Linked DNA regions of Homo sapiens. The protein of the gene in region 1 interacts with the protein of each later gene in a pairwise test. Each region holds a gene or a part of one and is shown in the gene's direction. Other genes may lie near its edges.

Region 1 (3,748 bases):
CTGGGCCTGCCCAGGTATCTGCAAACTCCCGGGTTCCACAGCACCTTGTATTTCATGACGATACAAAGGAGTAGCTATTGGGGCTCTATCTGCTGAGGGAGATTCATCAGACACCCCGATGCAAACCTGAGTGAGTGAAGGCTGGGCTTCTAGGCAAATGCAGCCCCTCCCTCTTCCAACCAGATGGCCGCCCCTCAGCGCCCCCTGTGGAGAAATTCAGGAAGCACCACTCTTGTATAATACATATACCCCTCTTGTTAAGGTCATTACCCCAAACTGTTAATTATTATTTACAAAAAACATATTATCTACTAGAATATGAACCCTGTCCCCACACCTAGGGTGGTGTGTGTATGTGTGTGTGTGTGCATTTGCACACATGTGCCATAAGAGCTCGATAAATATTTGAATAACTGAGTGAATGAATGGGTATTTAGAAGCCCATTAAGCTCAGACTAGGATGCAATTTGAACTTAACCCTGCAGGTACTCGGACAGCTGATAAGGGGAGTAGCATGCATAAGGATTGGAAGAGGAAGCTGGGGTGTGTGTAGGAGGTGGTGTGTAGCACTGTACTGGGGAGAAGAATAGGCCTCAGAACCCAGCAGGACAATGGTTAAATCCCAGCTCCACAGAGTGATCTCGGCAGGTTACCTGACATCTTGTTTCCTTAGGGGTTGCTGGGAAATTAAATGACAAAAATGCAAAGCACTCAGAGACTGCACTCCGATGCCCATGGAGAATAAGTGGCAACTCTTATTATTACTCAACCTTTCTGAGCCTCGATTTCCTACTCTGTAGTAGCATGTCATTGTCTGATGCTAAATGGAAATGAAGTAAAATTTGTAAAACGAAGTTTCACTAAATAATACTTCATGTGATGTATTCTAATATATTCTGTTTTATGCTAACTCATTAAAGAAAAAAGAATACTGTCAGTGACCCAGTAAATTGATTTCATAATCCATTAACGGACATGTCCTTAAGTTTTAAAAAACCCAGCCTACAGAATACATTTTTAAATAGACTTTATATTTTAGAGCACAATTCAACAGAAAGTACAGAGAATTCCCACATGCCCCCTGTCTCCACAGCTCTCCCCTGCGCATCAACATCTCACACAGGGTGGGACACTTGTCATGGTGGACCACCCCACATGGACACGTCATCATCGCCCAGCACCGAGTTTGCATTAACATTCGCTCCTGGTGGTGAACATTCTATGGATTTTGACCATTGCATAACGACACATATCCGCCATTATGGTACGTTTCACTGCCCTAAAAATCCTCTGCTCTGCCTATTCATTCTTCCCTCCAGAATATTTTTAACACGATCTCGAGGCCATAGATGATATCAGTAATTTGCAGTATTGATGATAGTGGTGAACCGGAGGAGAGAGACACTGTTAGGAAGCTGCTGTAGTGGTTCAGGTGAGTGAGGACAGAAGGACAGCTGTGGCTGCAAAGGCTGGAAGAGAGGAGGGTGTGGGACACTGGTCAGGAAGAGACAGGCCTTGGTCAAGGAGTGAGGAACGGGGAAGCAGGAGCCACTGGACCCTAGGGGTCTGGAAGCTAGTGGCCTTGGTGTGGGACTGCAGAGAGATAGGAGGTGCCAGACGGCAGGGACTTCAAGGCAGAATTGAAATCTGCTGAACAGCAGGCGTCGGTCAGCTGGGACAGCCGGAAAGCTCGGGATCAGGAGGCGGTCAAGCTGAGCTCTGCTCTCATTCCGCCGCGTGACCTTGGGCAAGTCCCTTCCCTTCTACAGGAGGCTGGACTAGATGTCCTCCTTGTACAGCGTTGCGGGGAAGGTGAGACAGTGCCACCAACACAGCAGGGCATTGCTGGGTCGGGGGGATGGGGCAGGAAACGCTTCAAGGATCAGGCAGGATTTTCCTCCCACCAGGAAAAGCCGGCGCGGGTCTAAGGCCGGAGGAGGGACCCAGACATAGGAGTCACCTTCTAAGGGGCTTCCTGGAGCACATTTTCCTGCCCAGCAACAGGCGGCAGCATTCTCTCCCCACTAATCCTCTCCAAACAGCAGTGAGAGAGAATGCCTGCCGCTTCAAGCCAGGTCGCAACCCCTCGGTGACCCGCTGCGCCCGAGGAGGGGCCGGCGGTGCGCGGTGGTGGCGGCGGGCGCGGCAGCTGTGCCCGTCTGCCCAAGGGTTAATCCGTCCCCTGCAGCTGCCGCGCGTGCCTTGCAGAATTTCACCAGAAGAGGGTACAGTTTGAAAAGCTCCTGACGTCAGGCTGGAATTCCTATTGTGTTTAGAAAAGGCTCGGGCAAAGCCAGCCCAAGTTCGCTCTCTGCACACCTCGAGCACCTCGCGGACGGCGTGGGTCCGCCAGCTCCGGGACCTGCCGCCGCTGCCTGCGCGCCCCGGGGCGGAGGACGGTGCCAGCCGCCCACGAGGAGACCCCGCTCCCGCAGGAGGCCGAGCTGAAGCGGCGGAGCGCGCCGCCAGCCAGCCGGGGTGAGTGCCCCGGGCGAGGCCGGCGGCCGCCAAAGCCCCCGCGGGCTCGCCCGGGCGCCCGGATGCCAGCCCCGAGCCCCGCCGCCGGGTGCATGCCTCCCCCGCGGCGCGCCCCCGCAGGCTGCTGCCCGCTGTGACCGCCCTTCCCCGCAGGCGGGCGCCGGCCAGGCTCTCCCCGAGATCAGCGCACGGGTGGCACCCGCCGGACCCCCAGCGGCAGCGGCGGCGGCGGCTGCAGGGGGCGCGGGGCGGAGGCTGCGAGGGCGCGCGCGGGGAGGATGGACGGGTCCGGGGAGCGCAGCCTCCCGGAGCCGGGCAGCCAGAGCTCCGCTGCCAGCGACGACATAGAGATAGTCGTCAACGTGGGGGGCGTGCGGCAGGTGCTGTACGGGGACCTCCTCAGTCAGTACCCTGAGACCCGGCTGGCGGAGCTCATCAACTGCTTGGCTGGGGGCTACGACACCATCTTCTCCCTGTGCGACGACTACGACCCCGGCAAGCGCGAGTTCTACTTTGACAGGGACCCGGACGCCTTCAAGTGTGTCATCGAGGTGTACTATTTCGGGGAGGTCCACATGAAGAAGGGCATCTGCCCCATCTGCTTCAAGAACGAGATGGACTTCTGGAAGGTGGACCTCAAGTTCCTGGACGACTGTTGCAAGAGCCACCTGAGCGAGAAGCGCGAGGAGCTGGAGGAGATCGCGCGCCGCGTGCAGCTCATCCTGGACGACCTGGGCGTGGACGCAGCCGAGGGCCGCTGGCGCCGCTGCCAGAAGTGCGTCTGGAAGTTCCTGGAGAAGCCCGAGTCGTCGTGCCCGGCGCGGGTGGTGGCCGTGCTCTCCTTCCTGCTCATCCTCGTCTCGTCCGTGGTCATGTGCATGGGCACCATCCCCGAGCTGCAGGTGCTGGACGCCGAGGGCAACCGCGTGGAGCACCCGACGCTGGAGAACGTGGAGACGGCGTGCATTGGCTGGTTCACCCTGGAGTACCTGCTGCGCCTCTTCTCGTCACCCAACAAGCTGCACTTCGCGCTGTCCTTCATGAACATTGTGGACGTGCTGGCCATCCTCCCCTTCTACGTGAGCCTCACGCTCACGCACCTGGGTGCCCGCATGATGGAGCTGACCAACGTGCAGCAGGCCGTGCAGGCGCTGCGGATCATGCGCATCGCGCGCATCTTCAAGCTGGCCCGCCACTCCTCGGGCCTGCAGACCCTCACCTATGCCCTCAAGCGCAGCTTCAAGGAACTGGGGCTGCTGCTCATGTACCT
Region 2 (3,748 bases), on another chromosome or scaffold:
CCCATCATTGTATAAATAAGGAAATTGATGCAAGAGGCTTTCCTCAAATATTTAAGGGCAGAACTAATGAGGCCCCAAACCATTTGAGTCCAATGTCAGATTCTTTATGGTACACCATGCAAAAACCCTTTCCTCATGTTACCATTATATTCTCTCAAGAAGCATAATTTCCCAGTGGAGATTAAATAAAATGTTATAACAACAAGAACAACATCCATCTTGGCTAACAGCCACACTACCACATCTCAACAGAATAATAGGGCAAAGGAAAGGCTAATTATATTTCAAGGAAATGCAGTCTGTTCACCTTTGTCAGTGGTTTAGCTGAAGGCAAAGGCGGGGATAATGGGCACTTAACATCTGTGTGCCCCATTATAAAGTACCAAGTCACTTTTCACAGAGTATCACCTTTGATCCTCATAAGCTAGTAGAGGAGGTGCAGTCTCTCCATTTTAGAGTTTAAGGAACTAAAATCCTTAAACTAAAACTCACCTAAGAATCCTCAGGTTAAGTGATTTACCTACAATTCGTAAGAGGCAGAATTAGGAAAAGGCAATTAGAGACAGATCAGGGACTAGCCAGCAGTTGTTTTTGGTTTATTCATTCAACAAAGATTTATTGAATGTATTTATGGAACACTGAGGATACAGTGGTAAACAAGAAACCCTCCTTGTGATTAGTAAATTACATTCTAGTGAATCTTGGTCCAAGGTTCTTGCCCCTATTTTACAGTGTTGACCGGCTGCGACTGTTTAGGCCTGTCACTGTATTTAAAAAACATTTCTAAGGTGTTTACTGGTCTTGCTGGTACTAAAACCGACTTTTAACTTTCTTTGGTACATTTTGAATCCCATTTAAGGAAAGATTTGATAATTATCTGTTCTTTAAATTGCCGTAAGTAGGCAGCAGAAATAATTAATACTCCATATTTTATTTGATTTTGCTTATGGTCATGTCAGTGATCATTTTAAATCCTACTGGCTTTGTTGCCACATAGGCAAAACCAGCCTGTTTCTCTTTATATTCATGGTTGGAAACTGTTGTTACAGAATATTTTTTGATAGTTGCTTAAATCTGCAGGCACTTGTTGTCAGAATGTTTGCTGAAGCAAATAGGAGATCTGTCTTAGAAAGGCTGGCAGACCTTGGTGCCAGGAAACTACAAAAATATTACTCTAAATGGTCCCATTCTGGGCAGAACATATGTTTTAGTGTTCGGGAACCTATATCAAACAATTGTAGGTGCCAGTAAAAATCCATGCACATTAGCAGGAGTGAAACACAGCACATTTTGGTACAGATTTATGTACATGTATAATTTACAGATTGCTAAATCAGCTGTGTTTTTGTATAGTGTTAAGTTGGTTCAGGTTGTTGATATAATTAGTTAGCAAACAGGATGAGAACCACGAGTAATGTTGTGTCTCCTCATGGGTGTTTTGAGCCATGGTAATATTTATAAAACAGAAAACTGGTTAAAATCCATTGTGCCTCTACAAGGGGGAATGGATGATAATCTGGATTATTACCAGCTCAGCAGAGCTTGTTTTTTCTTGTAAAATATTCTAAGACAATCTTCAGCCAAGGCTCAGCTATCTTTCTCTGAAAGTGTCAAAAAGTTAAATCTGTTGGCTGATGTTAGATGGGGGATTGAGAAGCTGAAGCCTTGTCATTTAATGTTAAGGAAATAAAGCTTCCAAATTCCATGACTTTTATGCAACCCATTTATTTTAGTAATCTATCTTAAAAGAATAGATGTGTTTGAGGAACACTGTGGGTCAACTGAATCCTTGGCTTCATTGTTTCCGATGCCAGCTCTGCATATATGGTTGGACCTCATTTGGGAGTGGTTCCTTGAGCATTACCTTGAAGCTCTTCAATTCTTCCCTTCCCTTTATTTTTGATTAGTTAATGGCTTGTAAACAAACATTTTAAAATCTACTAGAGTATCTGCTTTATACACTTAGGATATTTGGACCATACTTTTCTTGTTTTTTATTTTTTCTGTTTCTCTAAGTGGCCACACCTGTAACTGTTGAGAAAGAGAAATAGAATCACAGAATCTTAGTTCTGGGGGGACATGCTATACAATTCATTTTCCACTGTTCCACTGAATCCTCTCCAGAACCTCCCTCCTGATGGTTCTCCAGCCTGTGTTTGACTAGCTTCAGTGATGGGACCCTCACTTTCTCGTGAGGAATATTCTATTTGTAAGCAAGTATAATTGTGTTTCTTTTGCCGCCTTTCCTTGTTTTTCTCTTCTTCTCTTCTCTCTGCCTCTTCCTCCTCCCTTTGTTGCTGTCATTTGGTCTTACCAAAATCTGTCTTCTTATAGCTACCACTTATTTGCAGTCTGCTCCGTGGAACAAAACTGACTTAGCCCATTGTTTTTTCCAGCTGCAAACCTTTAAAAAACTTTTGATAAGTTTTGCATTGTATTCTTCTCCCCTTTTAACCTTTTTAATTGTTCAGTACGACAAATAGAAAAGCACACAAAACAATTTTGTACAGCTTAACATATTTCTATAAAGTGATACTGTATGCCATCGCCACCTGTGTCAAGAAATAGAGTCTTGCCAGACCTCTAGAAGCCCCCAAAGCCTTCCTGATCCTAAGTCCCTCACTCTCCTCCTAAAGGGTGACATCTCCTGATTTTATGGTGATCACTTTCTTGCTTTTCCTCATAATTTTACCAGTTTGTTTTGCATTCCTAAAAAAACCCACTATAGTTAATAAATACTACTGTTTATTTTTATCTGTTTTGGAGCTTTATATGCATGAGATCATATAGCATATATTCTTTTGTCGGGTGGCAATTCCTCTATGTTGTTGCATGTACTGCTTCATTTTCTTTACCTCTTTCTTTTTTTTTTTTTTTTTTGAGACAGAATCTCACTTTGTCGCTGGAGTGCAGTGGCGCGATCTCGGCTCACTGCAACCTCCGCCTCCCGGGTTCAAGCAATTCTCCTGCCTCAGCCTCCTGAGTAGCTGGGATTACAGGTGTGCACCACCATGCCTGGCTAATTTTTGTATTTTTAGTAGATACAGGGTTTCACCATGTTGGTCAGGCTGGTCTTGAACTCCTGACCTTGTGATCCGCCCGCCTTGGCCTTCCAAAGTGTTGAGATTACAGGCACGAGCCACCACGCCTGGCCTGTTGATGCATTTTCACTGCTGCATCGTGCTTTATAGTATGACTGTACCACACATTGTGTCCGATCTGCCACTGATGGATTGTTTCCAGTTTTGTGCTATTAATGCTGCTACAAACATTTTTAGTATGTCTTTTGGAGCATGTGGGCACACATTTCTCTTGGGTGTATACCTAGGATGCACATGTTTAACTGTGGTAGATGCTGTCAAACAGTTTTCCAAAGGTTTTATATTAATATACACTCCCACCAGCCGTGTGTGAGCGTTTCTATCACTGCAGCACATCCTTGCCAGCATTTGGTATTTTCTTCTTTTGTCTTTAGTAGTGATGTTGCCCAAACAATCTAGTACCTAATAAAACAGGGTCATTGAGAGTTATGTTAATAGGAGCACATGACCAAAATTAAATGAAAACAAAACTTGCTCTTGCCCTTTGGGAGGCATCAGTATCCACTGTGGGTTGAAGTATTCTCTCTGAGGAGCTCCCTCACACACGATTGTAAATGATGCGAAAGACTTGTACAGTTTGAATTATGTGCAAAGGGTACATGCAAGTGTGGTGGGATTTTTTTTTTTTTTTTTTTTGGTGTGTGTGT
Region 3 (3,748 bases), on another chromosome or scaffold:
GGTCAGCTGGTACCCTGGCCAGGCCCAGAAGCTGCTTTCCATCTGGCTGCTTCAGCCTTGTGGCCTCAGGTGGGTTATTGACCTCTCAGCCTCCTGAGATGGAGGCAGGAAGTGCGGGCCGTTTTGCTTTCGGCTGTAGGCGCCCACACCTGTGCCGAGTTCTCAGGACGCGCACGCGTGCGCGTGCACACACACACACACACACACACACACACACGACTCGTAAAGCCCTGGGCAGGTGGGTTTCATTTTTAGTACTTCTGAGCTAAAATTAGTTTATTGAAGCAGCTTTATAAAGGTATTTGAATAGGTTCTAGAGACCCAGAATATAATATGTATGTAGTGGAAATGATTGTTCTGTTTCAGGACAGTTAATGTTTCTGTACCAAAGAAAACGAGAAACAATGGGACGCTGTATGCCTACATCTTCCTCCATCACGCTGGGGTCCTGCCGTGGCACGACGGGAAGCAGGTGCACCTGGTCAGTCCTCTGACCACCTACATGGTCCCCAAGCCAGAAGAAATCAACCTGCTCACCGGGGAGTCTGATACACAGGTGAGGGTCTTCATGGGTTACTGATAACAGGCTGTGCCTCTCCGTCAGAACGGACATGTCTTTCTCCACACAGGTGGGCGATGTCTAGGGCTCCAGTGACTTTGTTGGGAGTAAAGCCAAAAGCCATTGGAATGTTACTGGCGTGCATTTCTGACTTTCAGCTGAATCATATCCATGAGTTTGCAGACAAGTTTTATCTAAAATTAGGGACAGTTGAAGTGATCGCTGGCATTCTCGATGCAGAGTCCCTCGGGGAATGGGCCCTCTCAGTCTCTGGGGGCACCTACTGCACCTGGTGGGATGGAGCGCTGGTCCTGCAGAGCTGGCCTGCAGCTTCTCACCAGGAGCTCTGGGGATGAGAGCTGGGCTCATTCTGCATTCTGTGTAGGACTGGGCTATTCCTAGATGTTTATTCTAAGAATGTAATTGGAGATCATGGAAAAGGTAGAGGTACAAGTTGTAGTTTGTACATCTGTAGAAAGGTGTATGCGCAAATAAAAACTGGAAGTCACTTAAGTGATCATGAATACAGGCCAAGGATAAAGCAAGGGAATTCTGACACCCACCTTTGTGTTGAGTGGAAGGTGAGATAATTTACAAAACAAGGCCGGGCGCAGTGGCTCATGCCTGTAATCCCAGCACTTTGGGAGGCTGAGGCAGGTGGATCACCTGCAGTCAGGAGTTCGAGACTAGCCTGGCCAACATGGTGAAACCCCGTCTCTACTAAAAATACAAAAATTAGCTGGATGTGGTGGCACGCGCCTGTAATCCCAGCTACTCAGGAGGCTGAGGGAGGAGAATCGTTTGAACCCGTGAGGTGAGATGATGCCACTGCATTCCAGCCTGGGCGACAGAGGGAGACTCTGCCTCAGAAAAATTTACAAAACAAGAAAGATGGCAGCTTTCCAGGAAGAGGCTGTGAAATTGTTCCAGACAGAGAGAAAGAGAGGTCTCTCGGAGTTGATGGGGTTTTGAAAGCCCTACCAACACCTGCTCCTGCCTCTCCCCAGTTTGCATCTGTCTCCTTAGGAACATCCCTCACCTGCCCCTCTCCGTGTCCCCTCATCTGGGGCCCCCATCCCTCCTCTCCAGTGTCCTGAAAAGTGGGTGGGGTGATGGGCATGTAGCATGTAGCGCAGGAAGCCTCCCTTGCAGGTAGCAAATGTGAGGAGGTGTGGAAAACCGTTTGTAATGTAAATTATCGCTAAACTGCATCTTTAGGTAGGAAATGGGTGAGGCGATAGTGCTTCCTAGGATGTATCAGATCTGAGCCGAGCTAAGATTTCCCTGTCAGTCCATGTCCTGTTTAACTTCATGTAAGAGCCGTGTGTAATCCTCAGTATGTCTCCTTTAGGCAGCCCCACATGCTTGGTTTTAGAAGCTGACTCCCTCTCAGTCTCCTTACAGCCACAGGGCTGTGTGAGCCCTGGACTTGCACAGTCTTCTGCCAAGGTCAGGGGGCTCTCACCCTCTCAACTTCTGAGAAGTGGGCCCACTTAGTTTGAGGACCTCAAAAAAGGAATTGGTGAAGTCCGTGACCACATGTTGCAAAGCAGCACCCCCTGGCTTCCGTGGAGATAAGGATGGGGGGCTGTTTGGCGAGAGTCTGGCGGAATTGGCAGCTGTGGGGCCGCTGTGCCCTCTCTGCTGGGCTCTCCCCCGGTTGTGCCTGTGCGTGGCCATCTGTTCACAGGTTAGGGTGCCGACCCTGCTGTCCGGGCGCGGTTTTTCCATGTGCGTGGCCATCTGTTCACAGGTTAGGGCGCTGACCCTGCTGTCCCGGGCACAGTTTGCCCGTCTGTGTGGCCATCTGTTCACAGGTTAGGGCGCTGACCCTGCTGTCCCGAGCACAGTTTGCCCGTCTGTGTGGCCGTTCTCTTCACAGGTTAGGGTGCTGACCCTGCTGTCCGGGCGCGGTTTTTCCATGTGCGTGGCCATCTGTTCACAGGTTAGGGCGCTGACTCTGCTGTCCCGGGCACAGTTTGCCCATCTGTGTGGCCATCTGTTCACAGGTTAGGGCGCTGACCCTGCTGTCCCGAGCACAGTTTGCCCGTCTGTGTGGCCGTTCTCTTCACAGGTTAGGGTGCCGACCCTGCTGTCCGGGCGCGGTTTTTCCATGTGCGTGGCCATCTGTTCACAGGTTAGGGCGCTGACCCTGCTGTCCCGGGCACAGTTTGCCCGTCTGTGTGGCCATCTGTTCACAGGTTAGGGCGCTGACCCTGCTGTCCCGGGCACAGTTTGCCCGTCTGTGTGGCCGTTCTCTTCACAGGTTAGGGTGCTGACCCTGCTGTCCGGGTGCGGTTTTTCCATGTGCGTGGCCATCTGTTCACAGGTTAGGGCGCTGACCCTGCTGTCCCGGGCACAGTTTGCCAGTCTGTGTGGCCATCTGTTCACAGGTTAGGGCACTGACCCTGCTGTCCCGGGCACAGTTTGCCCGTCTGTGTGGCCGTTCTCTTCACAGGTTAGGGTGCTGACCCTGCTGTCCCGGGCACAGTTTGCCCGTCTGTGTGGCCATCTCTTCACAGGTTAGGGGGCTGACCCTGCTGTCCCGGGCACAGTTTGCCTGTCTGTGTGGCCGTTCTGTTCGCAGGTTAGGGGGCTGACCCTGCTGTCCTGGGCATGGTTTTCTGTCCCAGCATTGGCCTCTGTTTTCCTCACTTAACAGCAGATCGAGGCGGAGAAGAAGCCGACGAGTGCCCTGGATGAGCCAGTGTCCCACTGGCGACCGCGGCTGGCGCTGAACGTGATGGCGGACAACTTTGTCTTTGACGGGTCCTCCCTGCCTGCCGATGTGCATCGGTACATGAAGATGTAAGTGGGGCCCCAGAGCTGGAGCGCCGGGGGGAGGGTGCTGGGACCCTGGCTGGCCAGAACTCGCCAGCAGGTCACTCCTGCACCGTGGAGTCCCCTCTGTGGGGAGGCACTTGCTGCCCGGGCCTCCCAGCTCTTTCCCACTTCCTCATTGAGGTTGTGCTGCTACCACAGGGCTGGAAGGGGGGAGAAAGGAATTCAAGCTGGAGCATCCTGCCCTTTGCTCCTGGCTGGCGAAGGCTTCCATGGAGAGAAAACGGAAGGCGCTGATGGGAACGGGTTGCTTTGCTCCCCTTGTGATTTTTTAACTTGGCTTATTTAGATTTACTTAAAAGTTAATCTTTAGATTATTTAGTATCACTTGCCATCAGTTAAATACAA

What was found.
Region 2: the proteins of KCNF1 (region 1) and KCNH1 interact in a two-hybrid assay, tested with the Homo sapiens proteins (one study listed by BioGRID).
Region 3: the proteins of KCNF1 (region 1) and CLPTM1L interact in binary tests that used the Homo sapiens proteins (3 or more experiments, as listed by UniProt).

The regions. Positions count from the first base shown.
Region 1 is NC_000002.12:10,909,671-10,913,418, forward strand, and holds the start of KCNF1 (voltage-gated potassium channel regulatory subunit KCNF1), read left to right. Parts: upstream 1-2,263; 5' UTR 2,264-2,756; coding exon 2,757-3,748. UniProt on the Homo sapiens protein: Regulatory alpha-subunit of the voltage-gated potassium (Kv) channel which, when coassembled with KCNB1 or KCNB2, can modulate their expression and their gating kinetics by acting on deactivation upon repolarization and inactivation during maintained depolarization.
Region 2 is NC_000001.11:211,127,415-211,131,162, reverse strand, and holds part of KCNH1 (voltage-gated delayed rectifier potassium channel KCNH1), read left to right. Parts: intron 1-3,748. UniProt on the Homo sapiens protein: Pore-forming (alpha) subunit of a voltage-gated delayed rectifier potassium channel that mediates outward-rectifying potassium currents which, on depolarization, reaches a steady-state level and do not inactivate.
Region 3 is NC_000005.10:1,338,479-1,342,226, reverse strand, and holds part of CLPTM1L (lipid scramblase CLPTM1L), read left to right. Parts: intron 1-366; coding exon 367-556; intron 557-3,047; exon of another isoform or gene 3,048-3,081; intron 3,082-3,221; coding exon 3,222-3,367; intron 3,368-3,748. UniProt on the Homo sapiens protein: Scramblase that mediates the translocation of glucosaminylphosphatidylinositol (alpha-D-GlcN-(1-6)-(1,2-diacyl-sn-glycero-3-phospho)-1D-myo-inositol, GlcN-PI) across the endoplasmic reticulum (ER) membrane, from the cytosolic leaflet to the luminal leaflet of the ER membrane, where it participates in the biosynthesis of glycosylphosphatidylinositol (GPI).